Linked DNA regions of Homo sapiens: all the other regions are reported to be linked to region 1. Evidence: microRNA targets listed by miRTarBase, many of them from high-throughput screens and not tested one by one. Region 1 holds a microRNA gene; each other region holds the end of a gene's coding sequence. Distances are from middle to middle.

The links. Region 1 holds the annotated microRNA hsa-miR-4728-5p (UGGGAGGGGAGAGGCAGCAAGCA, at 2,349-2,371, shown strand). A microRNA usually pairs through its seed, bases 2 to 8, with sites in the 3' UTR of a target mRNA and lowers its output. Matches are read on the target gene's strand: a 7mer-m8 pairs with bases 2 to 8, a 7mer-A1 pairs with bases 2 to 7 and ends in A, and an 8mer does both.
Region 2: miRTarBase lists UNK as a target of hsa-miR-4728-5p. Seed matches in the 3' UTR shown: 7mer-m8 at 2,884-2,890 and 7mer-m8 at 2,775-2,781.
Region 3: the mRNA of COX6B1 is a reported target of hsa-miR-4728-5p. The part of its 3' UTR that is shown has no 7-base or 8-base seed match.
Region 4: miRTarBase lists ZNF681 as a target of hsa-miR-4728-5p. Seed matches in the 3' UTR shown: 7mer-A1 at 1,683-1,689, 7mer-A1 at 1,849-1,855 and 7mer-A1 at 2,627-2,633.
Region 5: miRTarBase lists HMGXB4 as a target of hsa-miR-4728-5p. Seed matches in the 3' UTR shown: 7mer-m8 at 2,310-2,316.
Region 6: the mRNA of TIAL1 is a reported target of hsa-miR-4728-5p. Seed matches in the 3' UTR shown: 7mer-m8 at 1,145-1,151.
Region 7: the mRNA of THRA is a reported target of hsa-miR-4728-5p. Seed matches in the 3' UTR shown: 7mer-m8 at 1,905-1,911, 7mer-A1 at 1,850-1,856, 7mer-m8 at 1,155-1,161, 7mer-m8 at 1,113-1,119, 8mer at 709-716 and 7mer-A1 at 168-174.

What each region holds. Positions count from the first base shown.
Region 1 is chr17:39,724,148-39,728,441 of GRCh38, forward strand. MIR4728 (microRNA 4728) reads left to right here and starts at 2,348; the gene lies at 2,348-2,414. It overlaps ERBB2 (erb-b2 receptor tyrosine kinase 2), which reads left to right. Exons shown (of 27, transcript NM_004448.4): 20 at 579-764; 21 at 902-1,057; 22 at 1,180-1,255; 23 at 1,560-1,706; 24 at 2,415-2,512; 25 at 2,668-2,856; 26 at 3,148-3,400; 27 at 3,542-4,294. The coding sequence ends at 3,897. RefSeq lists an enhancer at 2,156-3,128.
Region 2 is chr17:75,824,103-75,828,102 of GRCh38, reverse strand. UNK (unk zinc finger) reads right to left here. Exons shown (of 16, transcript NM_001080419.3): 16 at 2,304-3,841. The coding sequence ends at 3,686. UNC13D (unc-13 homolog D) reads left to right here. Exons shown (of 32, transcript NM_199242.3): 32 at 17-878. The coding sequence ends at 138. Among named protein-coding and RNA genes, the nearest start is that of UNC13D, 18 kb to the left of the region's middle.
Region 3 is chr19:35,658,309-35,662,602 of GRCh38, forward strand. It overlaps COX6B1 (cytochrome c oxidase subunit 6B1), which reads left to right. Exons shown (of 4, transcript NM_001863.5): 4 at 286-474. The coding sequence ends at 339. Among named protein-coding and RNA genes, the nearest start is that of UPK1A, 6.1 kb to the right of the region's middle.
Region 4 is chr19:23,740,104-23,744,103 of GRCh38, reverse strand. ZNF681 (zinc finger protein 681) reads left to right here. Exons shown (of 4, transcript NM_138286.3): 4 at 1-4,000. The coding sequence ends at 492. Among named protein-coding and RNA genes, the nearest start is that of ZNF681, 17 kb to the left of the region's middle.
Region 5 is chr22:35,292,814-35,297,107 of GRCh38, reverse strand. It overlaps HMGXB4 (HMG-box containing 4), which reads right to left. Exons shown (of 11, transcript NM_001003681.3): 10 at 3,994-4,116; 11 at 1,301-3,501. The coding sequence ends at 3,457. Among named protein-coding and RNA genes, the nearest start is that of TOM1, 4.9 kb to the left of the region's middle.
Region 6 is chr10:119,572,082-119,576,375 of GRCh38, reverse strand. It overlaps TIAL1 (TIA1 cytotoxic granule associated RNA binding protein like 1), which reads left to right. Exons shown (of 12, transcript NM_003252.4): 12 at 585-2,911. The coding sequence ends at 711. Among named protein-coding and RNA genes, the nearest start is that of TIAL1, 23 kb to the left of the region's middle.
Region 7 is chr17:40,088,553-40,092,846 of GRCh38, reverse strand. THRA (thyroid hormone receptor alpha) reads right to left here. Exons shown (of 9, transcript NM_199334.5): 9 at 1-3,641. The coding sequence ends at 3,391. NR1D1 (nuclear receptor subfamily 1 group D member 1) reads left to right here. Exons shown (of 8, transcript NM_021724.5): 8 at 1-54. Among named protein-coding and RNA genes, the nearest start is that of NR1D1, 9.9 kb to the left of the region's middle. RefSeq lists enhancers at 1,005-1,631, 1,632-2,257.

The DNA.
Region 1 (4,294 bases):
TTGCTCTGTCACCCAGGCTGGAGTGCAGTGGCGTTATCTCGGCTCACTGCAACCTCCACCTCCTGGACTCAAGCGATTTTCATGCCTCAGGCTCCTGAGTAGCTGGGATTACAAGCGCCCGCTAATTTTTTTTTTTTTTTTGAGACAGAGTCTCGCTCTGTCACCCAGGCTAGAGTGAAATGGTGCGGTCTCAGCTCAGCCTCCCAGGTTAAAGCGATTCTTCTCCCTCAGTCTCCTGAGTAGCTGGGATTACAGGCGCGAGCCACCACGCCCGGCTAATTTTTGTATTTTTAGTAGAGATGGGATTTCACCATGTTGGCCAGGTTGGTGTCAAACTCCTGACCTCATGATCCGCCCGCCTCGGCCTCCCAAAGTGCTGGGATTACAGGTGTGAGCCACCGTGCCCGGCCTAATCTTTGTATTTTTAGTAGAGACAGGGTTTCACCATGTTGTCCAGGCTGGTACTTTGAGCCTTCACAGGCTGTGGGCCATGGCTGTGGTTTGTGATGGTTGGGAGGCTGTGTGGTGTTTGGGGGTGTGTGGTCTCCCATACCCTCTCAGCGTACCCTTGTCCCCAGGAAGCATACGTGATGGCTGGTGTGGGCTCCCCATATGTCTCCCGCCTTCTGGGCATCTGCCTGACATCCACGGTGCAGCTGGTGACACAGCTTATGCCCTATGGCTGCCTCTTAGACCATGTCCGGGAAAACCGCGGACGCCTGGGCTCCCAGGACCTGCTGAACTGGTGTATGCAGATTGCCAAGGTATGCACCTGGGCTCTTTGCAGGTCTCTCCGGAGCAAACCCCTATGTCCACAAGGGGCTAGGATGGGGACTCTTGCTGGGCATGTGGCCAGGCCCAGGCCCTCCCAGAAGGTCTACATGGGTGCTTCCCATTCCAGGGGATGAGCTACCTGGAGGATGTGCGGCTCGTACACAGGGACTTGGCCGCTCGGAACGTGCTGGTCAAGAGTCCCAACCATGTCAAAATTACAGACTTCGGGCTGGCTCGGCTGCTGGACATTGACGAGACAGAGTACCATGCAGATGGGGGCAAGGTTAGGTGAAGGACCAAGGAGCAGAGGAGGCTGGGTGGAGTGGTGTCTAGCCCATGGGAGAACTCTGAGTGGCCACCTCCCCACAACACACAGTTGGAGGACTTCCTCTTCTGCCCTCCCAGGTGCCCATCAAGTGGATGGCGCTGGAGTCCATTCTCCGCCGGCGGTTCACCCACCAGAGTGATGTGTGGAGTTATGGTGTGTGATGGGGGGTGTTGGGAGGGGTGGGTGAGGAGCCATGGCTGGAGGGAGGATGAGAGCTGGGATGGGGAGAATTACGGGGCCACCTCAGCATGTGAAGGGAGGGAAGGGGCTGCCTGTGCCCCACCTTGCAGGGTCTGTGCACTTCCCAGGATTAGGGAAAGACCGGGTAGGGTCTGTCTCCTGGCATCACATCTCCCCCTGCTACCTGCCATGATGCTAGACTCCTGAGCAGAACCTCTGGCTCAGTACACTAAAGCTCCCTCTGGCCCTCCCACTCCTGACCCTGTCTCTGCCTTAGGTGTGACTGTGTGGGAGCTGATGACTTTTGGGGCCAAACCTTACGATGGGATCCCAGCCCGGGAGATCCCTGACCTGCTGGAAAAGGGGGAGCGGCTGCCCCAGCCCCCCATCTGCACCATTGATGTCTACATGATCATGGTCAAATGTGCGTGGCTGAGCTGTGCTGGCTGCCTGGAGGAGGGTGGGAGGTCCTGGGTGGAGGAGCCCACAAGGGGCATGAAAGGGGACCAGGATGTATGTAGACCCAGGAGCCCTAGTATGTTAGGAGCCTCAAAACCTTCTTGTATCCCTTTTACAGTCAAAGTCCAAAGCCACTCTTGAGGAACACTCTTGTACAAAATTAAGCTGGGCACAGTGGCTCATGCCTGTAATCCCAGTACTTTTGGAGGCTGAGGTGGGAGGATCCCTTGAAGCCAGGAGTTCAAGACCAGCCTGGGCAACATAGTGAGATCCTATCTCTACAAAAAATAAAAAAATTATCTGGGTGTGGTGGTGTGTGCCAGTAGTCCCAGCTACTCAGGAGAGGCTGAGGCAGGAAGATCACTTGAGCCTAGTTTAAGGTTGCAGTAAGCTATGATTGCACCACTGAAATCCAGCCTGGGTGACAGAGCGAAACCTCATCTCAAAAAAATAAAAAAGCAAACAAAAAGAAAAAAAAAATTAAAAGGGAAACTAGAAGAGATGCCAAAGGTTCTGGCTGAAGACCCCAGAGTCTGGTGCTACTTCTCTACCACCTGAGGGCTTTGGGCTGTCCCTTGGGACTGTCTAGACCAGACTGGAGGGGGAGTGGGAGGGGAGAGGCAGCAAGCACACAGGGCCTGGGACTAGCATGCTGACCTCCCTCCTGCCCCAGGTTGGATGATTGACTCTGAATGTCGGCCAAGATTCCGGGAGTTGGTGTCTGAATTCTCCCGCATGGCCAGGGACCCCCAGCGCTTTGTGGTCATCCAGGTACTGGGCCTCTGTGCCCCATCCCTGCCTGTGGCTAAGAGCACCCTCCTGCAGAGGGTGGGAAGGAGAGATGAGTCCAGTATGCCAGGCCCCTCACGGAAGGCTGCATGCTGGGCTGGGGAGGGGCCACCATCCTGCCTCTCCTTCCTCCACAGAATGAGGACTTGGGCCCAGCCAGTCCCTTGGACAGCACCTTCTACCGCTCACTGCTGGAGGACGATGACATGGGGGACCTGGTGGATGCTGAGGAGTATCTGGTACCCCAGCAGGGCTTCTTCTGTCCAGACCCTGCCCCGGGCGCTGGGGGCATGGTCCACCACAGGCACCGCAGCTCATCTACCAGGGTCAGTGCCCTCGGTCACACTGTGTGGCTGTCTGCTTACCTCCCCCAACCCCGGTGGACTAGGGTCCCTTTCTCTGATGTTCCCTCAACTGTCACCTCTCAAGGAAACCCCATTATCCCTACAAAAAATTCTTACTGCCTTCCAACCCCTGTGACCCCATTCTCTCCACGGTGACTGTGTCATACCCCAAAGGTGACCTCTGTTTTTCTCCTGTGACCCTGTCACCTTCCATGGAGTCCCCATCCCAGATCCGTGAGTGACCCCCATCATGACTTTCTTTCTTGTCCCCAGAGTGGCGGTGGGGACCTGACACTAGGGCTGGAGCCCTCTGAAGAGGAGGCCCCCAGGTCTCCACTGGCACCCTCCGAAGGGGCTGGCTCCGATGTATTTGATGGTGACCTGGGAATGGGGGCAGCCAAGGGGCTGCAAAGCCTCCCCACACATGACCCCAGCCCTCTACAGCGGTACAGTGAGGACCCCACAGTACCCCTGCCCTCTGAGACTGATGGCTACGTTGCCCCCCTGACCTGCAGCCCCCAGCCTGGTATGGAGTCCAGTCTAAGCAGAGAGACTGATGGGCAGGGGAGGTGGGACCTTCAGCCCAGGGTCCACTGTGGGGGCAGAGGGAGTGGCAGAGACACCGGGGTTCCTTCCCCTAATGGGTCACCTTCTCTTGACCTTTCAGAATATGTGAACCAGCCAGATGTTCGGCCCCAGCCCCCTTCGCCCCGAGAGGGCCCTCTGCCTGCTGCCCGACCTGCTGGTGCCACTCTGGAAAGGCCCAAGACTCTCTCCCCAGGGAAGAATGGGGTCGTCAAAGACGTTTTTGCCTTTGGGGGTGCCGTGGAGAACCCCGAGTACTTGACACCCCAGGGAGGAGCTGCCCCTCAGCCCCACCCTCCTCCTGCCTTCAGCCCAGCCTTCGACAACCTCTATTACTGGGACCAGGACCCACCAGAGCGGGGGGCTCCACCCAGCACCTTCAAAGGGACACCTACGGCAGAGAACCCAGAGTACCTGGGTCTGGACGTGCCAGTGTGAACCAGAAGGCCAAGTCCGCAGAAGCCCTGATGTGTCCTCAGGGAGCAGGGAAGGCCTGACTTCTGCTGGCATCAAGAGGTGGGAGGGCCCTCCGACCACTTCCAGGGGAACCTGCCATGCCAGGAACCTGTCCTAAGGAACCTTCCTTCCTGCTTGAGTTCCCAGATGGCTGGAAGGGGTCCAGCCTCGTTGGAAGAGGAACAGCACTGGGGAGTCTTTGTGGATTCTGAGGCCCTGCCCAATGAGACTCTAGGGTCCAGTGGATGCCACAGCCCAGCTTGGCCCTTTCCTTCCAGATCCTGGGTACTGAAAGCCTTAGGGAAGCTGGCCTGAGAGGGGAAGCGGCCCTAAGGGAGTGTCTAAGAACAAAAGCGACCCATTCAGAGACTGTCCCTGA
Region 2 (4,000 bases), 36 Mb from region 1:
ACCCCTCTCTCCGCAGGGGACCCAATCCTGCAGCTGCTGGAGGGCCGGAAGGGTGACCGAGAAGCCCAGGTCTTTGTGAGGCTGCGGCGGCACCGGGCCAAGCAGGCCTCCCAGCATGCCTTGCGGCCGGCACCGTAGCCGTAGAGGTTTGCGGTGGGGCTGGGTCCCCGGTGGGGACTTGCAAGGGCTTTCCTGTAGGGTCTGGGGCTTCCCCGCCACATCGCGGCCCTCCAGCCTGGCCTAACACTTGGGGAGCCCCAGCATGCGGAGTGCCCAGAGTGCAGACCTCCCCTGCCTCCCATGGTGATGGGGGCTCAGCAGCGACATCTCTACTCCCGCCTCCCTGCCTCCAGCCCTGGCTGCAATGTCTCTACCACATCCCAGCACCAGGGGGAGCAAACCCTGCCCCTGCCCGCCTCTCAGAAAAGCTGCTGTGGTGGGCAGGGGATTGGGCCATCTGTCTCCTGGCCCTGGCCCATCTGCCTCCTGGCCTTCCTGTTCCAGCCACTGGGGTGGGGGCCAGGTTCACTGGGACCAGGGCTACAGGCACAGAGTCTCCTGGAAAAGGGAGAGGGGACCCTGCCAAAGATGAGGCTCCAGCTGCCCTGGGGGGAGGGTGGTGGCCATTACTAGAGGGGGCCTGGGTCCTCTCCCCAGGGGCTGCCAGCATCCAGGCCAGGAAGCCTGGAGCCAAGAACCTTCTGGCTCTGAGGGAGCAAGAGCTGGCAGGCGGCAGGGCTGGCACAGACAGACGGAAGCAGAAAGGACAGTTTGGCTGCTGTGTCTGCTGCGCACGCCCCCTCCCCGGACAGCACCTGCCACCTAGAAACTTTCTTAGCAAAAAAATTAATAAAAACAAATCCATTGTCCTCTTAAAATATGCCTTTGGCCTACAGTGGGGCCTGGAATGCGAGCCAGGCCGGGTAGCTTCCTCCCCAGCCCTCAGGGGACTTTGAGCTACCGCCACCTTGGGGTAGCTACAAAGCAGGGGGGTAGGTGTGGAAATAACTGAGGCAGAGGCAGGGCTAGGGTGATTTTTGGCCGTGGGCTTTGAATAAATTGCTTTACCAGGCATACCAGTTCCTGTGGTGACACCCAGGACAGGGACCCGTTCCTCGGGGGAGCACAGTGAGCAGGGGCCTCCCAGGGGTGCAGGTTGAGGCTGAGGGGCTGCTCTTGAGACAGTAGGGCGTAGAGGAGCTGGGTCCCTCCCCTGCCTGGGGGGTGTCAGAACCTGAGGCCTGGTCATCACGTCATCCTAGCTGTGTGACCCTGGTTCCATGTCGGAACCTCTGAGTCTGCACAAAATGAGGACAGGAGTCGAGGTTAGCTGAGATGACATCCAAGGCCCGAGACCATGCAAAGAGGATCCCACCAGGGTGTTTTCTCACCCCCCACCGCACAGCCTAGTTGAGGAGGTGGGAGGGAGGACGTACCTCTTAGGCCTCAGCCCCTCATCCCTCAGGGGCAGGGTAGGGTGAAGAAGGCAGAAGGCAGGACTTCCTCTGGGTCCTACCAGCAAATCATCCCAATGGGAAGGCACTGGGTTTTTTGTTTTTGTGATGGAGTCTCACTCTGTCGCCCAGCTGGAGTGCAATGGGGCAATCTCAGCTCACTGCAACCTCTGCGTCCCGGGTTCAAAGGATCCTCCTGCCTCAGCCTCCTGAGTAGCTGGAACTACAGGCATGTGCCACCACACCTGGCTAATTTTTGTATTTTTTTTTTTTTTAGTAGAGACGGGGTTTCACCATTTTGGCCAGGCTGGTCTCGAACTCCTGACCTCAAGTGATCTGCCCGCCTCGGCCTGTTTTTGTTTTTGAGATGGGATCTCACTCTGTCACCCAAGCTGGAGGCAGCTGTGCAATCATGGCTCACTGCCGCCTCGACCTCCTGGGCTCAAGTGATCCTCCCACCTCAGCCTCCCTAGTAGCTGGGACCACAGGCATGCGCCACCATGCCCAGTTGGGAAGACACTGTTCCTCTGAGAAACAGTTACGGGCCCTATTGCCAGTCACCGCTGACCACACAGCCCTAAAGAGTCCTAGGGCCTGGGGGGCCTCTGTGTCCAAGGCTAAGGGTCCCTGTGTCATCAACCGCTAGGCCTAGGTCGGAGAGCACTTGAACTGTCTTGGGGCCTGATGGGCCCAGGAAGTTTCCAGCCCTCTCCAGCTGCCTTACCACAGCTCAGGGGTGTGGGCAGCAGCCGTTTCCATGGCTGAGGCAAGGCTCCTGGCCCACCTCATAGTTCAGAGGCCCTCTTTTGGGACCCACTCCCCCTCACCCCCATGTAAACAAGCTACCACTGCAAGTTCATATTTTATTTCCAATAGGTTTGGAGCTTTGTTGATTTTTGCATTTTTGTAAAAAAGGAAAAAGTTTTCACTTAATTCATTGAAAGCCCTTTCGTGCTGAGCCCAAGGGGGAGCCTGGGCCAGGACCAGACCCTCTCAGCCCTCTTGTTCCTACCGCAGACACCCGGTGCTGGGGGTGCGGCTGCTCCCCTCCGCCCACTCTGCCCTCCCGCCCCTGCTGCATCTCTCTCTGTACAGAACAATTTTTAAAATGGAAGCTAAGACACAATATACACTGGACAGGCACACACACACGCACACAGGCGTCCGCCCAGAACAGGGCGGGACACCAGCTGCACTCAGAGAGCACCAAGGAATGCAAACGGAGCCCCTCCGGGTAGGAGGGCAGGGCCTGGGCCCCCTTGGTCCTCAGTCCTCAGTCCGCACTCCTCCCCGCCAATTGCCCTGCTAGCTGCCAGAGAGGGGAGGGGGCAGGGAGAGCTGGGGGCAGCTGGTTGGGGGCGGTGGTCATAGAATGAGTACCAGCCTGGTAGGCGGCCCTGGGGCCAGGGAGGCTCTTGTGGGGAGTCCGGGGAGGGGCGGCGGGGGGAAGGACTGAGGGTGGACCCTCAGGAACCTGAGGGCTGGAACTCCTGGGCCTTGCCCCTCAAGGAGCTTCAAGGGCCCAGGTGTCAGGAGTGGGGCTGGCCCTGCAGCACTGGCCTCCAGCCCTTGCTGTTCTCCCCAAGACTAAATTAACATTTGGTAAACTTAGGAGCTAAGCCAGCTGAGACCCCCAGCACTCCCCCTCGGGCCTCCCTGAGGCCCTCACAGCTGGGGGCCAGGCCTGCTCTGGGGGACCCACGTCTTCCACACTCCACCCTTGCCCTGGCAAGGAGGTAGGGGGAGCAGGGCCTGCCCTGAGGGCTTCTCCCTTCCCCTTAGTGCCTTCCAGTCCCACCCTTCCCTGCTCAGGCCCCAGGAAGAAGTTAAAAATAGTTAGTTCCTACATTAAAAAAGAGACAGAACCAGATTCTCTGCCAAAAGGCCAGTGGGAGAAGAGGGGATGTCATCTCTGCAGTGGGAAGGGCAGGGAGTGGGTAGGGGAGGACTGCAAAATAGTTTCTTCTTTTAAAAAGTGCTTGGTAAGTCTTTTAAAGTGTGTGTCTATATCTATGTACAGATATACACACAGACACTGTCCACACCACCACGCATACCTGCACACATACGGAAATGTATACATATACATACATACGGAAATGTATACATATACATAATCATATACATATACATACATACATACACATATATATATATATTCATATATATATATATACTTTAAAAAGTCCTAGGTGAGAAGATCTGGGCCAGGCTGGGCCAGGCCTGCAGGGTCACGACTGGAGGGTGTGGGCCCGGCCAGGCTGGCAGATGGGGCACTCGCTGCCCTCAGCGCAGAGCTCACACAGCGCAGCGTGTTGGCACGGCAGCACTGCCCGCTTCTGTTCCTGACACTTAAGGCATTTCACCGACTGCATGTGGAACACGGCCTGCAGGGAAAGGGGCATCGTGGTCACCATCCATGGGTCTGGCCCCAAGTTGAGCGAGGAGTTCCCTTGATCCTCACTGCAGCCCCTTGGGATGGGAAAACTGAGGTACCGAGCTCAACAGTGTGCTCCCAGACCCCTGTTGGCAGGTGAGAGAGCAGG
Region 3 (4,294 bases), not on the chromosome of region 1:
CCACCCTTGGAGCTCTGTACAGTGACACATCTCCCCATCGACAGCTCTGCAGTGGGCCTGGGGTTTTCCTGCCCATTACTCTCCTCCCAGCATGTCAGCTTGTTCAGAACAGTGATTTCTGTCTTTTGGGGTCACTGCTGATTCCCCGGCCTCTAGAATAGAGGTTGGCACACAGCAGGTACCTGTGGATATTGGTTGAACAAACAGGTGGGCAAAGTGAGGAAGATAAGAAGTCCATCCGTTCAGTTTCCCCACTGCGGAGGGAATAACACTGTCTTTCCACAGGTCACAGACTGGGATGAGCAACGGGCTGAAGGCACGTTTCCCGGGAAGATCTGAACTGGCTGCATCTCCCTTTCCTCTGTCCTCCATCCTTCTCCCAGGATGGTGAAGGGGGACCTGGTACCCAGTGATCCCCACCCCAGGATCCTAAATCATGACTTACCTGCTAATAAAAACTCATTGGAAAAGTGAGACTATGCGTGTGAACGGGCCAGGCAGTGGCAAGAAGCTGGGCTGGAATCAGTGCCCTGACCAGGGAGGGGCTTGAATGAGTATTTTCTCTGTTTTGTTTTTATTTATTTAATTTAATTTAATTTTTTTTTTTTTTATGATGGAGTCTCGTTCTTCACGCAGGCTGGAGTGCAATGGCACGATCTCTGCTCACTGCAACCTCCACCTCCAGTGTTCAAGCGATTCTCCTGCCTCAGCCTCCCGACTAGCTGGGACTACAGGCACACCCCACCACACCTGGCTAATTTTTGTATTTTTAGTAGAGATGGGGTTTTACCATGTCGGCCAGGCTGGTCTCAAACTCCTGACCTCAGATGATCCACCTGCCTCGGCCTCCCAAAGTGCTGGGATTACAGGCATGAGCCACCATGCCTAGCGTTTTTTAACTTAATTTTATTGAACCTTGGCCACCCTCTCTGTGCCAGTCAATGAGTCAAATAGTTGATTATACAGAATAACCTAAGTTCCTATGTGTGCAACCACCCTACATAATTTTAAAGCAAATTATATAGATTATAATATAATATAAAATACATAAAGATTATATTTTATCCAGAAATAAGAAACTATATGTATCTCTTGGAGATACAATTTTTTTTTTTTTTTTTTTGAGACAGAGTCTCAATCTGTTGCCCAGGCTGGAGTGCAGTGGTGTCATCTCAGCTCTCTGCAACCTCTGCCTTCTGGGTTCAAACTATTCTCCTGCCTGGAGATACCTATTTTTTTAACATAATTATTTACACCTAAGAAATTAGTTCTTAATGGCCGGGCACAGTGGCTCATGCCTGTAATCCCAGCACTCTGGGAGGCTGAGGTGGGCAGATCACCTGAGGTCAGGAGTTCAAGATCAGCCTGGGCAACATGGCGAAACCTCGTCCCTACTAAAAGTACAGAATTAGCCAGGCATGGTAGCACATGCCTGTAATCCCAGCTACTCGGGAGTCTGAGGCAGGAGAATCGCGTGAACCTGGGAGGCAGAGGATGTGGTGAGCCGAGATCATGCCATTGCACTCCAGCCTGGGCAACAAGAGTAAATCTCCATCTCACCAAAAAAAAAAAAAAAAAAAAAAAAGAGTTCTTAATATCTAATAAGCAATCTCCTGCACAATGTGTAACTTCTCCCCGTGTTGGGACCTGCTCTTTCATGCTGATCATGATGGTAGTTGGAAGTCATTTAAGTAGGCCAAGTTGAGAGCTGTTCTTCATGGTGCCCCCAAAAGAATTGCCACACAATAACAGCCCAGAATATCCCCAACAGACTCGTCAACAGGGACCTAGCTAGCATGACCAGCCGGAACACTCTTATGGCTGAATTGGTGTGTCCTCAAAACCTTTCAAATGGCCGGGGTGTGGTGGCTCACACCTGTAACCCTAGCACTTTGGGAGGCCCAGGCGAGTGGGTCACGAGGTCAGGGATTCAAGACCAGCCTGGCCAAGCTGGTAAAACCCCATCTCTTCTAAAAATACAAAAAAAACTATAAAAATACAAAAATTAGCCAGGTGTGGTGGTGCGTGCCCCTAATCCCAGCTACTGGGGAGGCTGAGGCAGGAGAATCACTTGAACCTGGGAGGTGGAGGTTGCAGTGAGCTGAGATCACACCACTGTACTCCAGCCTGGGCGACAGAGCGAGACTCCATCCCCAAAAAACAAAAACAAAACTTCAAATGGTTACAAACTTGTCTGATGCATTCACATGAGCAGGGATGATTCTTGTATGGAGAAAAATGGCCCCAGAGATAGATCTTGTGAAATAGCTGCTCATGAAGAAAAGTGGCTGTAGGGGCCGGGCGCGGTGGCTCACGCCTGTAATGCCAGCACTTTGGGAGACCGAGGCAGGCAGATAACCTGAGGTCGGGAGTTCCAGACCAGCCTGACCAACATGGAGAAACCCCGTCTCTACTAAAAATACAAAATGAGCCAGGCGTGGTGGTGCATGCCTGTAATCCCAGCTACTCTGGATGCTGAGGCAGGAGAATTGCTTGAACCCAGGAGGTGGAGGTTGCTGTGACCCGAGATTGTGCCATTGTACTCCAGCCTAGGCAACAAGAGCGAAACTCCGTCTCAAAAAAAAAAAAAGTGGCTGTAAACAGGACCTTAGTGCACACACAGGGAGCTTGAGGGATCGTGGGAGGTTATGGCGTGGGTTGGAAGTAGCAAAGAACTTAAACACCATGAAAAAAAAATTTTTTTTTTGAAATGGAGTCTTGCTCTGTTGTCCAGACTGGAGTGCAGTGATGTGATCTCTGCTCACTGCAACCTCCACCTCCCGGTTCAAGCAATTCTGCCTCAGCCTTCCAAAACGCTGGGATTACAGGCGCTTGCCACCACACCCAGCTAATTTTTTGTATTTTTAGTAGCGATTTAGAGAGTAGTTTCACCGTGTTGACCAGGCTGGTCTTGAACTCCGTGACCTCAGGTTAACCATCCACCTCGGCCTCCCAAAGTGCTGGGATTACAGGCATGAGCCACCACACCCAGCCAACACCATGAAAATTTCAAATGAAACAGGACGGCCAGTGAAAAGTCAAGGTGCTGGACTCCTTGAGTCCAGCTGCCTGATTCTGCCCAGGGTTTGCCACCAGTGCCAGTGTTTCCTGTACATTCCTTTAGAGATAGCTCATGCATCTAGAAGTATTTGTAAATATATTGATCTGATTGGATATGGTGCCCTTTTGCTCACACAGCCCCTGCCACACTGGCCTCTTCAGTGCACAGGAACTGTGAGCAAATGTATTTCGACACACCAGGCTGGCTCCAACCCCGGATCCTTTACACTTGCTGTTTGCTCGACCTGGAATGTTTGGCCACCAGCTGTCCACAAGCTCACCCCTCACTGCCTTCAGGTCTTCATTTAGCGAGGCCTTCTCTGACCACTCAGCCTTCACCTTCAGCTCCTCCATCTTTGTGCCCCTTCACTCCTTTTGTTTCTTTCTCTTTTTTCAATTTTTATTTATTTTTTTAGTTTTTGGAGATGGAGTCTCTCTGTCACCAGGCTGGAGTGCAGTGGCGCAATCTCAGCTCACTGCAACCTCAGACTCCCTGGTTCAAGCGATTCTTCTGCCTCAGCCTCCCAAGTAGCTGGGATTACAGGCACGCGCCACCACGCCCAGCTAATTTTTGTATTTTTAGTAGAGACGGGGTTTCACCATGTTGGCCAGGATGGTCTCCATCTCCTGACTTTGTGATCCACCCAGCTCGGCTTCCCAAAGTGCTGGGATTACAGGTGTGAGCCACCACACCTGGCCTTGTTTCTTAAGCACTTACCGCTAACATGCCAAATGTTATCCTTCATCATTGCACCACTGGAATGTAATTTCCATGCGGGCAGATTTGGAAATATATATTTAATTCCCCTTTTCAGCTTTTTTTTTTTTTTTGAGATAAGGTCTTACTCTGTCACCTAGGCTGGCATGTAGTGGCGTAATCTCAGTTTACTGCAGCCTCCGCCGCCCAGACTCAAGCCATCCTCCTACCTCAGCCTCCCAAGTAGCTAGGACCACAGGCATAGACCACCATACTCAGCTAGTTTTTTGTTTGTTTGTTTGTTTTTGATAGAGACGGGGTTTCACCATGTTGCCCAGGCTGGTCTCAACTCCTGAGCTCAGGTGATCTGCCCGCCTTAGCCTCCCAAAGTGCTGGGATTACAGGCCTGAGCCACCGCACGCCAGCCTGCATTTTTTCCAAATGTTCTAATCTTTCTCATTTTATTATTTTTTTTTTTTTAATTTTTTTTTTGACACAAGACCTCACTCTGTCACCCAGCCTGGAGTGCAGTGGCCT
Region 4 (4,000 bases), not on the chromosome of region 1:
TGTGGCAAAGCTTTTAACCAGTCCTCAATCCTTACTACACATAAGAGAATTCATACTGGAGAGAAATCCTACAAATGTGAAGAATGTGGCAAAGCTTTCTATCGATCCTCAAAACTTACTGAACATAAGAAAATTCATACTGGAGAGAAACCCTACACATGTGAAGAATGTGGCAAAGCCTTTAACCATTCCTCACATCTTGCTACACATAAGGTAATTCATACTGGAGAGAAACCCTACCAATGTGAAGAATGTGGTAAAGCCTTTAACCAGTCCTCACACCTTACTAGACATAAGAGAATTCATACTGGAGAGAAACCCTACCAATGTGAAAAATGTGGCAAAGCTTTTAACCAGTCCTCAAACCTTACTGGACATAAGAAAATTCATACTGGTGAGAAACTCTACAAACCTAAAAGATGTAACAGTGATTTTGAAAACACTTCAAAGTTTTCTAAACATAAAAGAAATTATGCTGGTGAGAAATCTTAGAAATGTGAAGAATGTAACAAAACCTTTAAAAGTTGTCACACTTGATTGTGCATAAGATAATTCATACTAAAAAAAAACCTACAAGTGTGAAGAATGTGGCAAAACTTTTAACCAATGCTCACACCTTATTGCACAGGAAAGCATTTGTACTAGAAAAAAATTTCAAATATACAGAATGTGAAAAAGCCATTAATATCTGTTCACATCTTACTCAACATCAGAGATTTCATACTTAATAAAAGCATTATACATGCAATTACTGTCAAAAATCTTTCAGAAAATATAAGCCTCTAAAGTGAAGAGTATTCATTTTGAAGACACACATTATGAACATAAGGAGGGTTGTGGTACCTTTACTTGTATCACAGATCTCATTGTACACATTTTGTGCTAGAGGAAAACCATGGAGCAGTTGCTTAAACTTTGTGCAACATAAGGAAATTTATATTGGAGAAAAACCCTGCAAATGTAATAAATTTGGGAAAACATTTTTTCAAAAACGACAGCTTAGAAAACACTAGAGGGTTCATACTAAAATCTATTTTTGCAGATGCAGTAAATATGAAAAAATATTTAATCCAAAATTCTATGTAAATATCAGATAATTCACAGTAGAAATAGTTAAGGCACTGACACTTCAGGCATTACACTAAATCAGATTGCTGAGTATAGAAAAGAATCTAAAACTAAAGTTGGTAAATGAATTATTTGTATATAACATTATAAGAAGTAGAAAATTTTTGCAGAGTTGTAACTACATTCAAACTATCCTTTGAAAAAAATTAGGTTTTATGAAAAGTGAATAATGTCATTTAACTCAAGTTATGCTCTTCATTCCTATTGTATTCACATGTGAAAGCATGTGACTTAATTGTTGCTGCATCAAAGATGAGAGATTCTTTGTTATTAGGTGTGCATTATTTACGACCTTTTTTAGTGAAAGAGTTAAGGACATTAAAATGTAAGATGCAAGATGAAAATGTAAGTGGAGAGGCTCTTTCTGGTTAATTTATAATATTGACTGATGCATGAGGTAGGAGTTCAGATAAATATCCTGTGTTATATTGAGAAAAAAAATTTTCTGGTATATCATTTTACTAATTGTACTTTTTTTTTTTTTGAGACAGAGTTTTGCTCTTGTTGCCCAGGCTGGAGTGCAATGGTGTGATCTTGGCTCACCAAAACCTCCACCTCCCAGGTTCAAGGGATTCTCCTGCCTCAGCCTCCCGAGTAGCTGGGATTACAGGCATGTGCCACCATGCCCGGCTAATTTTGTATTTTTAATAGAGATGGGGTTTCTCTATGTTGGTCAGGCTGGTCTCAAACTCCCGACCTCGGGTGATCCACCCACCTCGGCCTCCCAAAGTGCTGGGATTACAGGCGCGAGTCACCATGCCTGGCCAATTGTACTTTTATGTAATAAAATGTAGTACATTTTAAAATTTTTAGATAATGTGTGAACTTATTAATCAGGCTTTTTAAAAAACATGTTAAGACCATCGTGCATTCAATGAAGCATTATTATGCCATTAAATTTAACTTATCCCATCTTACTCAAGGGTATAGGTAAATGATGGTAACTATACACTATTTAATAAGATAATGGACTAACATTTCTAGTAATCTGTTTTGCCAGTGGCTTTAAATTGCAAATAAGTCAGAGAATATTATTCCTGTAGGTTGAATTATTACTCATTTTTTCTTATTTAAACTTATTTTTCTTAATTTTTGTGGGTACATAGTATGTGTAAATATGGCATATATGGCATATTTTGATACAGGTATATAATATGTAATAATTACATATGGGTAAATGAAATATTCATTACCTGCAGCATTTATTGTTTGTATTTGTTTGTATTATAAACTAATTCTGCACTTTTCGGTTTTTTTTTGAGACGAGTCTCACTATGTCACCCAGGCTGTGCACGCCTGGGTGCATTGGCGTGGTCTCAGCTCACTGCAACCTCCGCCTACTGGGTTCAAGTGATTCTTCCGCCTCAGCCTCCTGAGTAGTTGGGACTACAGGCGCATGCCACCACACTCAGCTAATTTTTGTATTTTTAGTAGAAACAGTTTCACTACGTTGGCCAGGTTTGTCTTGAACTCCTGACCCCATGATTAGCCCCCTCGGCCTCCCAAAGTGCTGGGATTACAGGTGGGAGCCACCACACCCAGCCACTTTTAGTTGTTTTCAAATGTACATTAAATTGTTGTTGGCTACAGGGTCTCTTTTATGGTCATAAGAAAACAATATAAACAAAATGCATACATTTCTGAGACCTGAATTAACATTAAAAAATTGTTATATATTTTTCTTCAAACATGTTGCCTCTCTGCCTGCAAGCACATACAGACTATTAGTTTTGATTTACACAGAGTTAAATATATACATATATTACTTTAAAGATAAAGCTTGGGTTTAAAAAAATTATGGAGTAAATAAATGCCTTCTTTGCGAGTATGAGTTTCTACCTAGTTTCAGAAGAGCAATATTGAAACAAATCAAATTATTTTAATTAGATGATGACTGCAAAACTAAAAAAACTTAAAAATGCTGAAAACAAATCCATACTCTCTGCTTTGTATTGAATTGATTACTGTAAAATTGTATGGCTTATAATTCAGAATCTCCCTATGCAAATTTTTGTTTTTACTTGCCTGATTCTTAGGCTAGACCCATAATTTTCTTGTGTCTTACATTTTTTTCTCTTATTTTATATAAGATGCTATGTGAGCTGGTCAGAGATTATAAAAATAATTTTTATAAAATTAGTGCAAAAAATTTAGATTTAATTTCAAAATTAGTGTATTGTTATATTTTATGTTGTTAGAATATTTTATTTTGTTCTTTTAATTGGAGAACGCTGTATAAGCCTACTTTTTTTAGTTTTTGTTCCTTTCAGTTTTTATAATGAAAATAAGTAAATATTGATTGAGCCCATTTATTTAGGTGAGTACTAGGGGGGCTTCCTAAATCATGAGGATGTTTTTATATATAAATATAGCAAACAAACATGACAGTGCTTTCTGTGTCACAGATGCTTTATAATAAGCCATAAATATTCCTGTTGGAGTTAGTTTGTAACTTCAAGACAGAGATGGAACATATCAATTGTGAGAAATAACATTGATTTTTTATGTGGAGAGGACATTTATTTTCAGGCTGCAAAGCTCAGTTTTGCTGAATTAAAAAATTGTGCTTCTTTTATTTCCTAATTGTCTTAGTTTTGTTTGTCTTATTATGTGTATTTCAGCTGTGTATGCATCACAGCCCTCCTTTTTGCTGTGCTGTGGCTACAGTTTTCTCACTGTTCTCTTCACACCATGTCATTTCACATGGTATATTGTAGGTTTTGATGAGAAATCGGTATTTTTAATGCACTGCAAGATTGGTTTTAACTGGAGATTTTGCATATCAATATAATTTTCTGATCAGTTAAATTAAAACAAAAAGCATACAGTGTCCACAGATGAAAGGATTAAATCATTTAGCGTTGTTTTTCTC
Region 5 (4,294 bases), not on the chromosome of region 1:
CACCTGGCCAGTATATGGATTTTATCAACATAGTAGATAGGGATGTAAATGGCAAACATTAAAGTTAGTACAAAACTGATTAAAACTGTCTTTAAAAAGTGTGCTAATAAGGAGCAAACTGATTTAGTAAAAAGTGTTTCAATTTACTTTTTAAGTGTTTTAGTAAAATTAATATCATGCCTTACTGAGGGTTAAAATGTTCAAATTTCTTAAGATTGACAGTCTGCATAAATGTAATCTATTAAATCCTTTAAGTGCTTACAGACAAAAATCAAGATACCTTGCCTTCAAAATTTAAAGACAATAGTATGACAAGAGTGAAAGCCAGCTAGATACCCGAACAATGCAAAGATCTGAGACAGCATTCCCACAATCACATTCGCTCAGGACTTGAGATAATGGAAAGCATTCTGATGAATTATAGACATGATTTAAATCTGAAAGTAGCTTGGGGTAGAAAAGAGCCTAGGGTTTGGGGTCAGCTGTTTCACTGTTCTTAATCTGCCTTTGCCATTTACTAGCAGTATAAACTTAGGAAAAGTACTTTTTCGCATCTATAAAGGGAGATAATATTCTTAAGGCTTTGGGCGGAGGATGAGTGAGACAAAGTATGCAAATCACTCTAATAGTCACTCAGTGATACGGTAGTCTCTTCCTTGCTGCCTTTCCATAAGACATTAGCCTTGTAATTAATCATATTATTTTACTATTTATGACTTTTAACACCTTGTGTTTGCACTGAAGTTTTTACCTTGAAAGGTCATATCTCCATATATTCAGTGTTCATAATGTTATTAAACATTCATGTCAGGCTGGCTGGCTGCAGGTCTACAGACAGGGAAGTGACTTTAACACTATTCTATAGATGGGACTTTGGAAGCCTATAAAGATTAAGTAACTTATCAACAGCATTACTGTAATGCTAACAGGACAGTACTGAAACATATCATTTAGCACATGATTCAGATGCAACCCTTATATAAGATTAATCAACATTTTCTTGATTTAGGCCAACACCATAATGCACATAGTTTCATTTGCCAATAAATGGAGGTGGAATTATCAGATTCACTAAATTTGCAATTTGCAAAAGAGAAAATGAGAACCTCTACAATGTAAAAGTTAATAGAAGCAGAGTAAGGAGTATATTAAGAAAATGGCTAAGATTAGAAATTTAATCTCCATTGTGGGTTGATTTTTTTCTTAAGAAAATTATGGTAGAATAGAGTGAAAAACAGGTTTTATAATTTCATAGCAACTATGATGATCATGATTAGGGAAAAGACAGCTGAGACTGGACTACAAATATTAAAAATGTGATTTTTAATAATATAAGTACAAAATTTTATTTCTTTATACAACTGTAATGGGATTTGGATCAAACCACTAGAATTTATTTAAAAAACAAAATAAAACAATGATATAAAAACTGCAAGAAGGTCTGAATCCAAAGTTTTTCCTCTAATAGTACCAAATACCACAAGGTACAGATTATTATACAAATGTGTACAAATTTTAAATACAAATACAATAGGGCTGGGTTTCAAAGGAAAACAAACAAAAAGCAGGTCCTCATCAGGATTTCATTAATGTATATAAATGACAATGCTAGGATTAATGTCTTCCTATACTATCCATGTCTTCCCCGCCCCTCCTAGATACCCTGTGTCAAACAGGAAACTTCCACAGATACAGAAGAGGCATGGTACAATGTTCTAACACATGAAATCAAGTTAAGATTTCTGTTCCTCTTGATTTTGGTTCTCAAACAATCCTGTTTCTCTGTATTCCCAATTAAATCTTAAAACTGCTCTGAGCTGAGAAAGGGATTCAGCAGCCAGACTACCTTTAAGCAACATAGCCCTGTGACAACACTGGTGGGGAGAAGGGAAGAAATTAAATAGGATGCAGATGGGCTACACTGTCCCCAAAGATTTACTTTGATGCTGTAGTGCTCTGTCAGGGCCAGGAGAAGAAAGCACAGTTAACTCAGAGCTTGGTGTTGGCAGAGAATCTCATACCAAATTTAAAAACCATCCTGAAGTGCTCAACTGTCTTCTTTCCAACTGGGAAACAAACGTCTGGTTCTCTGGAAATAAGGGCAGCTGGGGATGGTAACATTCCTCTTTATTTTACTTTCTAGACATTATTGAAGCCCATGAAGTTCTTTATAAAGAATTAGAATCCTAACACAATGATTCATTTTTGAGGTAAAATACCTTAAAATGTAGATGATTCAGAGTTTTTGGAACAGACCAGGAGGAAGGAAGGAAAGAGGGAAGGAAACAGGGAAGGAAGGAAGGAAAGAAGGGAGGGCGGAAGGGAGAAATGACAAATCTGTATCTTCCACATGCTGTTGCTGGTGGAGGCTTCTGTTATTAAATTATATATACAGAAATTTACAGGATAAATTAAAATCTAAGAGATTTTAAAGAGTTAAATACACATAATTAAAATACACATTCACACACACATAAATAAACCTACAAGAGAGTGAGTTTTGTTTTGTTTTTGCAATTCACTTACATGTGGAATGCAGAACACTGTGTATCTGCCCACCAGGGGAACTGATAAGATGAACCCAAAAATCATGCTGGGCAAAGTTTATCCATAACCACCGAGCAACTAAGCAGCACGGCTTGTGAGGACTTGGTGGCTAACTTCATGCTGCCAGTGAAAGACACCAGCACTTAATTCTGCCGACTAAAGATTCTGGGTTAGCTCAGAATGTATGGAGGTCCAACTGGTGGCATTGACAGCTTCACCCCCCAAGGTGTTTTTTGCTGCCAGGGCTCACAGAACTCCTTGGCCTCTGTTGAGGCCACCAATGGTACCAATGATTACAATAAATTTTGAGACACAGACACCTATACAGTAGGAATTGGAATGAACCCTCTACTCAATTCACCTAAGCCACTTCCATAACTATAAAGGGAACAAATTTTATCACCTCCCACCTAGGTCACTTCAAATTGAAAGGCTTTGAATTTTCAGTCAACTGGCATCTTCCCGTTATCTTTCCTATTACATTTCAGACTAAGACAGGTAAGGCAAATGGTCAGTGATGGGTCTGGAGGTCCAACTGAGCTTGGAAAATAATCACATTTTAGCTGTCCATAAAGAGATGCGCTTGGCACCCAGAACAAGCCCCCAGCCCCCAAGTTACATTGATTTTTAAGGCAGATTTATCCACCACAGGAGAAAAAAGAATCCCAAGCCTGTATTCATGCCAAAATTTCCTCTTGGCTAAACCTTTGCCATTTCATAAAATTATTAAAAGCAAAGTAGTTACAGTCTATGTATATATTGTACATTATATATATATGTATATATGTATGTATAGATATAAAAATTTAAAACCTACAGCCAGAGGCCACTGAAGGAATCTGCAACAGTCATATATACACAAACCAGCAATGGTGTAGGATAAGGTTTCTGTCCCAGGATTCTTTGCTGTCACAGTCCCGGCATGATGTAAGCAATGTTGTCTAATGTGTTTGACTGCAAAACAAAGAAAAATGTTCAACTGAAGAGTACTGTACCTTGGTTTCCTGAGAGATGTTTCTTTGTTCAAGGAGAGAGATAAGAAAAATCAAATGGAGTTAGAAAAACAGGTGAGAATGAAGACGGCATCCTGCTGTTTGTTATGCTAGGAACTTTTCTGCTGACTTCTCCCATTAATCCTCGTAAAAAAGAGGGAAACAATTCCTGTACTGTCTTTGGGTGCAGAATAGCAAACAGGAAACACAGGAATTGTAGTACCTCAAGGGCTAGAATGCTGCTTTCTTAAGTACTGTTTTGGTAAATGGCTTGTTTTCTAGTTTCAGTGAAAGTACAGCATGCATTTGATAATATAGCATCATGTTCCATGGGCCAACAGATGAAGGAAGCACTGTGTGTCACAAAGCCTTATGTGTGTCTGACAGTGCTCATTAAGGCAGGGCATCTCTGACGCCCAATGGATCTGACTCTAAAAATCCAGGGAAAACTCACCAAGACCTGTTTGGGACAGCCATTCAATTCAGGTAGTTGTGTGGTGAGACATGCCAAGGGGCCAAGGGCACAGATAATGGAATCCAGAAGCACTGACAAACTGCCAGACACAGCCACCATACCCTGAAAAGGAGAGGAGGTTGTTGCTTGAGTCACACTCCTGATGCTGTGTTCCGGCTGACTTCCTCACACAGTACTTTAAATCCTAGGCAGTTCTACTCTTATAATTTGAAACTTTACAGCAGAAATGGAAAGTTTACTTTGATAACTCTGTAAGTTGTTTAGAAAGAAAACTTTTACA
Region 6 (4,294 bases), not on the chromosome of region 1:
GCAGTTGGTAGAATTTGATTTACATTTCTGATACACTTTTATTTATTTTTGCATGTAAAAGATCTTTGTCCAGATATATTCAAAAGTTTGATGGTTTTATGCCTATGTGGTATGTGTGAGAAATCTGAGGTTTGTGTGATACAAAGTAACTGGCCTTTTTTTTTTTTTTTTTTCTTTTGTTGATAGAGTGGTTTCCTCCTTTGTAATTCCCCTGCCCAGGGCCAGCCCATAGCTTTATTTTCAGATTTCTTCCTTTGAGACTGTTTCCAACATGAACTTGTTTTTAAAATTTCTTATGTAATAGATGATGTGTTGAATCATTCACAATTTTTAAAAAATTAGTTTGCAGATACTCCTCAGACATCAGTGTGTTAAGTTGTGGTTATCTTAAAAATATCAAAGACTAATACTGGAATATGTATTCTACACATATATCATTTATTTCTTTGATCTTTCTATTTGTTGTAGGTGTGTTGATTTCTGGTTTTCTATTCTGTGATTAGGCTCTGCTTGATTTTTGTGTAAATACATATGTGATTTTTTTTTTCTTGTGTTTGCTGAAGATTTTTTCTTTTTCTTCCAAGTCAATCACCTTCTGCTGCTTGGATGGGTGGATTTGGTGCTCAGCCTCCCCAAGGACAAGCTCCTCCCCCTGTAATACCTCCTCCTAACCAAGCCGGATATGGTATGGCAAGTTACCAAACACAGTGAGCCGGGACTCTAAAAAAAAATTGTAATTCATGATAGGCTTCGATTTCCTGTGACACTCTGAAGACATGAAAGTAGACATCGGAAAATGAAAATATTTATTTTAAAAATTGAAATGTTTGGAACCTTTAGCACAGATTTGCTTTGGTGAAGGACACGTGTCTTCTAGTTCTGCCTTTTTAAGTTTTTGTTCATGATGGATATGAACATGATTTTTCTTTATGTACAAAAACTAAAATAAAGTCAATAAAGACAATTCTGACTACAAATTTTGATATAATAGGAAAAATGGCTAATACATTTTGATTCTTAGATACTATTCCATTTTTATCTTGCTGTTCAGTATTTTAACTCACTGTGTTTTTAAAAGAGCAAAAAAGGGAGGATCGTGAAAACCTGGGAATCACATATAAGTTCATCCTGAATCCTGATACTCCCCTCCCCTTCCCTGAGGTGGACCACATTTGAAGTCAGCAGAGAAAAAGTGTGATATTCAGAAGAAATGCGTGATTTTGGAGTCGCTTTGGAGGAAATATTTTCTTTCTCTATGCCTAAAGAAACTGAAGCCAGACTGAAGTTTTGCACCCTAAAAAAGGAACAGCATTGTTTGAGTTACTTGAGCAAATGTTGGTGGTCCACGTTAAGACATATTTTTAAAACTTCCAAAAGTGTCGATTATTAAAATTGTAGTATTTTACATTTCATTTTGGGGGGAAATCCAAGTATGGTGTTTGTATTGAAGTCAGACAGTCATACTTGTGCTTTTACATGAAGTTTAAATGATACATATTGTAAATATTCAATAACTACAGTGTTTAAAAAGCATGCTTCAACATAGAAGTAGCAGCAATGTAATTATTTGAAGTAACACTTAACACACTCCGCTGCATTGAATGCAGTGGATTGATCAGAATGTTAAGACTGACATTTCCAAGGTTGGCTACTATGTAAAATTAAAATTACACAAATTGTGCAGAAAAAGCCTTAATTTTAATTTCATACAATCTTTGATGCATTAGTATGTTCTAAAATGTCATTGGGAATTAGTTTTTTGTTTTTGTTTTTTTTTTTTTTTTTTTTTGCTTTACATTACTTGGTATGTAAATACCTTGATTAAAACCTTGTAAACCAATTTCAAGGTTACTATAAGTTGTATAGTACAAGTGTTTTTTAAAAATCTTGGGGTGTTTTTAAAAATTAAGATATATTTTGCCCAAGAATTTTTTTAACAAGATTGCTAAAAACATCTTATTTAGACACTTCAATGTACCAATTTATAATTGGATATTCAGTTTAAATAGTACACAGAGTTGTGGCTTTTATTTTCAATTAATTTTTTTCCTTGTGGGCAGTGTGCATGGTATAATAAGCCTGAGCAGAGGCTTAAGTTGTATGTGTGCAGAGTTTGTAAAGGAATCAATTGGAAGATGCAGAAGACCGAGGTTTGCTTTCAAGGTATTTTTCAGGCTGTGTGGGTAAAATTTGCCTCAAATTTCTATCAAACAGGAATGTAAAATAGATAAAATCCTATGTATTTGAATTGTCAGAGCTAGGGAGTGCAAATGTTTTGGCAATGTATTCAAAATGCTGGCCTGGGCACCAAAGAGAAAATAGCCTTTTACAGTTACATAGTAAGATGCGATTAGTACCCACAAATTACTGTTTTCTAAACATTTGAAGTTTTACGATTAGCTTTAAAATAATGATTTTATAAATTGGTGGTCACAATAATTTTGGTATTACTTTCCTCCTTTTCCCACTTAGCAATATAGCCAAATGTATTCAACATAAAAATTCATAGGGTCTGAAATTCATAGCTGGGCCAAATTTTTTATGGCACCTTAGTTTTACCATAATGGTCATCTATTACACTCTTCTGTTATAAAATATACCCTTATTTCTTTTGTTTATAGTATCTTTGAGGAATGTTTTTGGAAAAGTTAATTTATATTTTATAGGGAGAACACTCAATAAATTATGTTAACTGTGCCCCCGAGTTAAAAATTTTATGAGTATATGTGAAACTTGAACAACTGAAGACTTTTTTTAATTGATAAAAATGCTTAGTATGCCTGTTTTGGTCTGCCAGTAAATTAAGTAGCTTATTGAGATAACTAACAGCTAAATATAGCTGTAGTGTTTCCTGACTGTATATTCTATGATTTAATAAAATTATCCAGACTAGTTATATTGCCACAGTAAACATGTGACTGAAGTGTCCTTCATCTTAATCTGAAAGAGGGCAAAATTTCATGATCAGTTAATGGAAGTTATTTCATATTAAGTGGTTTTTTTTTTTTTTTTTTTTTAGATGGAGTCTTGCTCTGTCGCCAGGCTGGAGTACATGTAGTGATGAGAACTTGGCTCACCGCAACCTCTGCTTCCCAGATTCAAGCGATTCTCCTGCCTCAGCCTCCTGAGTAGCTGGGATTACAGTCACGTGCCACCATGCCCAGCTAATTTTTTTGTGTTTTTAGTAGAGATGGGGGTTTCACCATGTTGGCCAGGATGGTCTCGATCTCCTCACCTCGTGATCCGCCCGCCTCAGTCTCCCAAAGTGCTGGGACTACAAGCGTGAGCCACGGTGTCTGGCTTTTTTTTTTTTTTTTTTTTGAGACGGAGTCTTGCCCTGTCGCCAGGCTGGAGTGCAGTGGTGCAATCTCGGCTCACCGCAACCTCCGCCTCCTGGGTTCAAGCTATTCTCCTGCCTCAGCCTCCCGAGTAGCTGGACTACAGATGCATGCCACCATGTCTAGTAAATTTTTGTATTTTTAGTAGAGACAGGGTTTCACCATGTTGGCCAGGATGGTCTCAATCTCCTGACCTCGTGATCCACCCACCTCGGCCTCCCAAGGTGCTGGGATTACAGGCGTGAGCCACTGCACCTGGCCATTAAGTGGTTTTTAAAATACAAAGCTACTTATCCAAATGAAATGTACCATTTAAAAACTACAACTGGGCCGGGCGCAGTGGCTCAGCCTGACCAACATGATGAAACCCTGTCTCCACTAAAAATACAAAATTAAGCGTGGTGGCCCGTGCCTGTAGTCTCAACTACTCAGGAGGCTGAGGCAGGAGAATCTCTTGAACCCAGGAGGCGGAGGTTGCCCTGAGCCAAGATTGTGCTATTGCACTCCACCCTGGGAAATAGAGCAAGACTCCGTCTCAAAAAAAAAAAAAGTGCAACTGTTGCCGGGCATGGTGGTTCACACCTGTAATCCCAGCACTTTGGGAAGCTGAGGCGGGTAGTGGATCACCTAAGGTCAGGAGTTTGAGACCAGCCCAGCCAACATGGTGAAACCCCATCTCTACTAAAAATAACAAAAAAATTAGCTGGGCGTGCTGGTGGGCGCTGGTAGTCCCAGTGACTTGGGAGGCTGAGGCAGGAGAATTGAACCTGGGAGGTGGAGGTTGCAGTGAGCTGAAAATGCGCCACTGCACTCCAGCCTGGGCGACAGAGCGAGACTCCATCTCAAAAAATAAATGAATTAATTAAAAGTATGGCTGTTGAGCTAACAGATGATTTTATAACATGACCCAATGCTATCTTGATCCAACTTAAGCCTAAGAATCGTTGCTCCCCACC
Region 7 (4,294 bases), 360 kb from region 1:
CCTGGCCCTCTGATTTGTTCTGTTCCTGTCTCAAATCCAATAGTTCACAGCTGAGCTGGCTTCTGTGGTGTGTGCTCGTTTGGGGGGTGGGGTGGAAATACTGCCAAGGCTGGGGGGGGCCACCTCTCCATCTGGTCAGTTTGTGGGGTGGGTACTCTGCCAGCAGATGGGAGGATATAGGGAAACAGCACACAAGTCTAAGGGGGGTGCCCAAGGGGGTTATTTTCATCATATATTTATTACATAAATATATAGTAAAATAGACGAGCAACAATTACCATAAAAATATCTTTCTTTAAAATCCTGACCCAAAACACAACGGGGTGAAAAATCGCACATAACAGACATACTGATTGTCAACGTGGGGCAGGAGTAGGAGCCCCTCAAGTCACCCCTGCCGGTCCCACCCCTCCCTGGGGAAGAGACCTACCTCCTTCCCTGTTTCTGGCCACAACCCCCCTCCCCCCAGCCCAGCACCAGCTTCTCATACATTCAGTAGCGCCTCTGGGCAGTGTCCCCCTCCCCCCCGCCCAGGAGTTCCCAGGGCAGGAGTTACTGTCCTCCTTATGGACGGTCTCTCTCTCACAACGCCCTGCCCTCTCCCAGCCCTGCAGACCCGCCACCAGGAGAAGGGGTAGGGGCTCCTCCCCCACCCTCCCCAAGTCTGAGCAGGGAGGAGGCTGGATGAGGTATGTGTGTTATGAGTGATGGGAGGGGCAATACTGAGATGGAGAGGCGGGTGGTGGGGGCGGGGTAGTGGTCATGGCTCTGGCAACCCCTTGTCCTGGCCTGGCCCCCTCGTCCTATTCCCAGCAACCCGTCCTCCCACCGATACTGCACCTGCTGCTCCACCCTGCCTGCCCTAGTGCCCCGGGCCAATACTGGGGGAGGCATGCTGAGCACCCACATCAAGGCCATCCCCCTCATTAGCACCAATGGCCCCCAGGAGAGGGCCCTGTCCCCCACTTCCACAGCAGGGACTGGGACAGCTGCCGCTCTAGAGCAGGTGCGTGGCACTCCTGAGTCGCCCTGGCTCCTCCCCTACCATGTGTACTCACTCACACATTCACGCAGAGGAACGCACACATACACCCCACATCACCGAGGGGGAAGGGAGGGGTCCGGGGAGGATGGGATCACAGCTCATATGATTGGGGAGGGTGGGGGAGTCCCAAGTGCCTATAAGAGGCTAAGGCTCTTCAAGGCCTTTTCTCTGCCGTGTCCATGGCTGAGAATGGGGATGGAGGGGTTGGGGTGGGGATGGAGGGATGGGGAAGACAGCAGACAGGTCAGGAATTCCACTGGGCCCCCAGGCGTGGTAGGAAGGTACAAGAGGGCCTACCCATGGGACTGGAGTAATACAGGATTCAGTACTCCAGGAGAGAGAGAGAGGATAGAGACAAAGACAGCGCGGGCAGCCCGAGGCCCCAGCAGGGTGGGACAGGCACATGCACAGGTGACAGCGGGTGCTCCTCCAGGCCCTCCACCCCTGTTGGAACACCTGAACGATTGGGGAAGGACAGTGCCCTGACGGGCAGCATAGCATTGCCTTCCCATGTCCGTGTGTGCATGTCCGTGTGTGTGTGTGTGTGTGTGTGTGTGTGTGTGTGTGTGTAGGGGGCTGTGGCAGGCTGAGGGTCAGGGTGGGGTGGCAGGTTCCCCACTGCTTAAGACATTTTTGCCCCAATAGTGCAAAGCGCAGGAAGCCCTGGCACCCCTCCCCCCACCCCCTGCCCCAATCCCCATGGCTTCCGGGGGCATCTGTGTCCACCCATCCATCCCTGCCGACATGCAGCCCTGAGCCCAGCACCCTCTGGTCTGCTCTGTCCCACCCCACCTCCTGCTCCCATGGGAGGACCACCTCCTCTCTCCCTCTCTCCCCTGAGGAGTGGGCGGCAGCCACAGGGAGGGGGAGGAGGACAGCTCACCCAAGTGCAGACCAACAGAGCACCCTCACCAGGAGGGCGAGAGGGGCTCAAGCCAAAGTCCCTGAATTAGAGAAAAGAAGAGGGGAAGGGGTCCCGGGGCAGAGGGGCAGCTGGCCAAAAGAGCTTTAAAGAAAAAGGAGCACCGACCACCCCTCCCCTGGGGCCCCAACTAAGTGTCACTTATCTAAACACCCCCATTCTGGTACCTGCCCGCCCAGAGTTAGTGCAGTGAGTAGGAGCTGGGGAGGAGGGCAGAGGTTAGAGAGAGCCCAGAAGACAGATGGGAAACAGGGAAACAGAGTGCTAAAGGGGTGGAGGGTTCTGGGAGACGCTCACGCACAGCCCTCCTACCCCCGACCCAACCAATGCAGCAGCATCCGGTTTCTAGCTAATACTGCAGGATATAAGGAGGGTAGGAGTTGGAGCCACAGTTTTTTCCTGGGTGGGTGCCAAGGTGTGGAAGGAGGAGGTGGATGGGGAGAGGCCCCTAGGGCTGGGCACTTAAAGGGGAGCTGTGTGGGCAGCAGGGCAGGCTGGTGAGGGGCCAGCTGGCATCCAGCATGAGAGGTAGATGGAACTCAGCGGGCACGAGTGGCAGAAAGCAGAGGACATACTAGGGTTGGGGGGTGCCAAAGGGGCACAGAGGGCGGGGTATGGCAAGGGGGGTGGCCAGGACCCTGTTGTGTTAACTCACAGCTCTGATCGGCAGCCCTACCCTTGGGGCTCTGGTGTGGGGGCATTTCTCTCTGATGTGGGGGAAGAAGGGGCAGCTCGCAAAGTGCATGGGGTGGTAAAGGGGGGGTCCTCCCCTCTGGTCAGCCTCAGTTAATAACTTAATATCATCTCTCTCTATCGCTCGCTCTCTCTTTTTTGTATTTTTCTCTCTGTCTAGTTTTTCTTCATTTGTCTTCTCCCCTTGCTTGGTTTCCAAAGTGCAGTTAGAATGACTATAAATTTTAACCTCCAGAGGAGGAGCCAAGCCAAGCCGTTCTTTGCACCCAGGCATCTGGGGAAGTAGAGAGGCCCTCAGCCTGGAGGGGAGACCTAGGCCAAGGAACTGGGTGGGGGCTCTCTCTCATGTGTGTGTAGGGGGTGAGTTGAGGGCATCTTCCCCCAGCCCACATTCCTCCTTCCCCTACGGTCAAGGTGGCTTGTCCCTTCTCAATCCTCCCGCCCTTCCCCTACCTTCTGAGAGGATGGGGTCCTGGGAACTGCAGGACACAGCTCCCCCAGCCTCCCACACTGTCCTTTCCATAGCAAGTTCAGTTGTTTGCCCTGTCCCAGGGCTGGAGGTCTGAGGAGGGACCTGGGCAGTGCGGGTGTGTGTGTGGGAGCTGAATCTATCCAAGGACGAGAGGAAGGAGAGAAGGGGTGTGGGGGGGTCTCCCTCAGCCCCCAGCTCTGCCCCTTCTCTCCAGGCTCCTCCCCACCAGCTCCGCACACCCTCTGGCCGCCTGAGGCTTTAGACTTCCTGATCCTCAAAGACCTCGAGGAAGAGTGGGGGGAAGAGTTCGGTGGGGCACTCGACTTTCATGTGGAGGAAGCGGCTGGCGTGGCAGGCCCCGATCATGCGGAGGTCAGTCACCTTCATCAGCAGCTTGGGCCAGAAGTGCGGAATGTTGTGTTTGCGGTGGTTGACGTAGTGCTCGAACGCCAGCAGGTACGCCTCCTGACTCTTCTCGATCTTGTCCACACACAGCAGGCCCGAGCGGTCTGTGAGGGAAGAGGGGCGTGAGGGGCGAGGGGCTGGCCGAAGGCCTGGAGATGGGGAGGGTGAGGTGTGGGGACGTGGGAAGAAAGGACTAGAGGGGAGATAGAGGCAGAGAGGCTGGGGGAGGGGAGGGGAGAAGCTCCCCCTGAGAGACGTGGACAGGAGAAGCACAGGGAGAGGGAGGCAGCTGGGAAGTGGAGAGGGGCAGGGGGGTACTGGGGGGAGGGGGCAATGCAAGGAGGACAGAGGGACAGGCCGGGGGCTGGGGGAGAGAGAGGAGCCTTGGAGTGGGGAGGACTGAGGTTGGTGGTCAGAGAGGCGGGGTGCAGATGGGGTTAGGGAGGGGACTGAGGGGTAAGAGATGGGACTGGGAGACAGAGGAGGGATGAGGGGATGGAAGGTGGCTGAGAACAAAGTGGGGAGTGGGGAACAAAGGGGAATGTGAGTGACAGAGGGACAGGGCAGCGAGAAGGAAGGAGACAAAGACAGGAAAAGGCACAGAGCAGGGATGGGGAGGCAAGGGATGGGCCTGGGGAACGAGTGAGAAGTGTGTGACAGAGCAAGGAACAGGGGATAGGGGATGGCCCAGGTGACAGAGAGGTAGCCCAGAAGAAGATTCAGGAGGGAGTTGAGCAACAGGCCCAGGGTCCAGCCA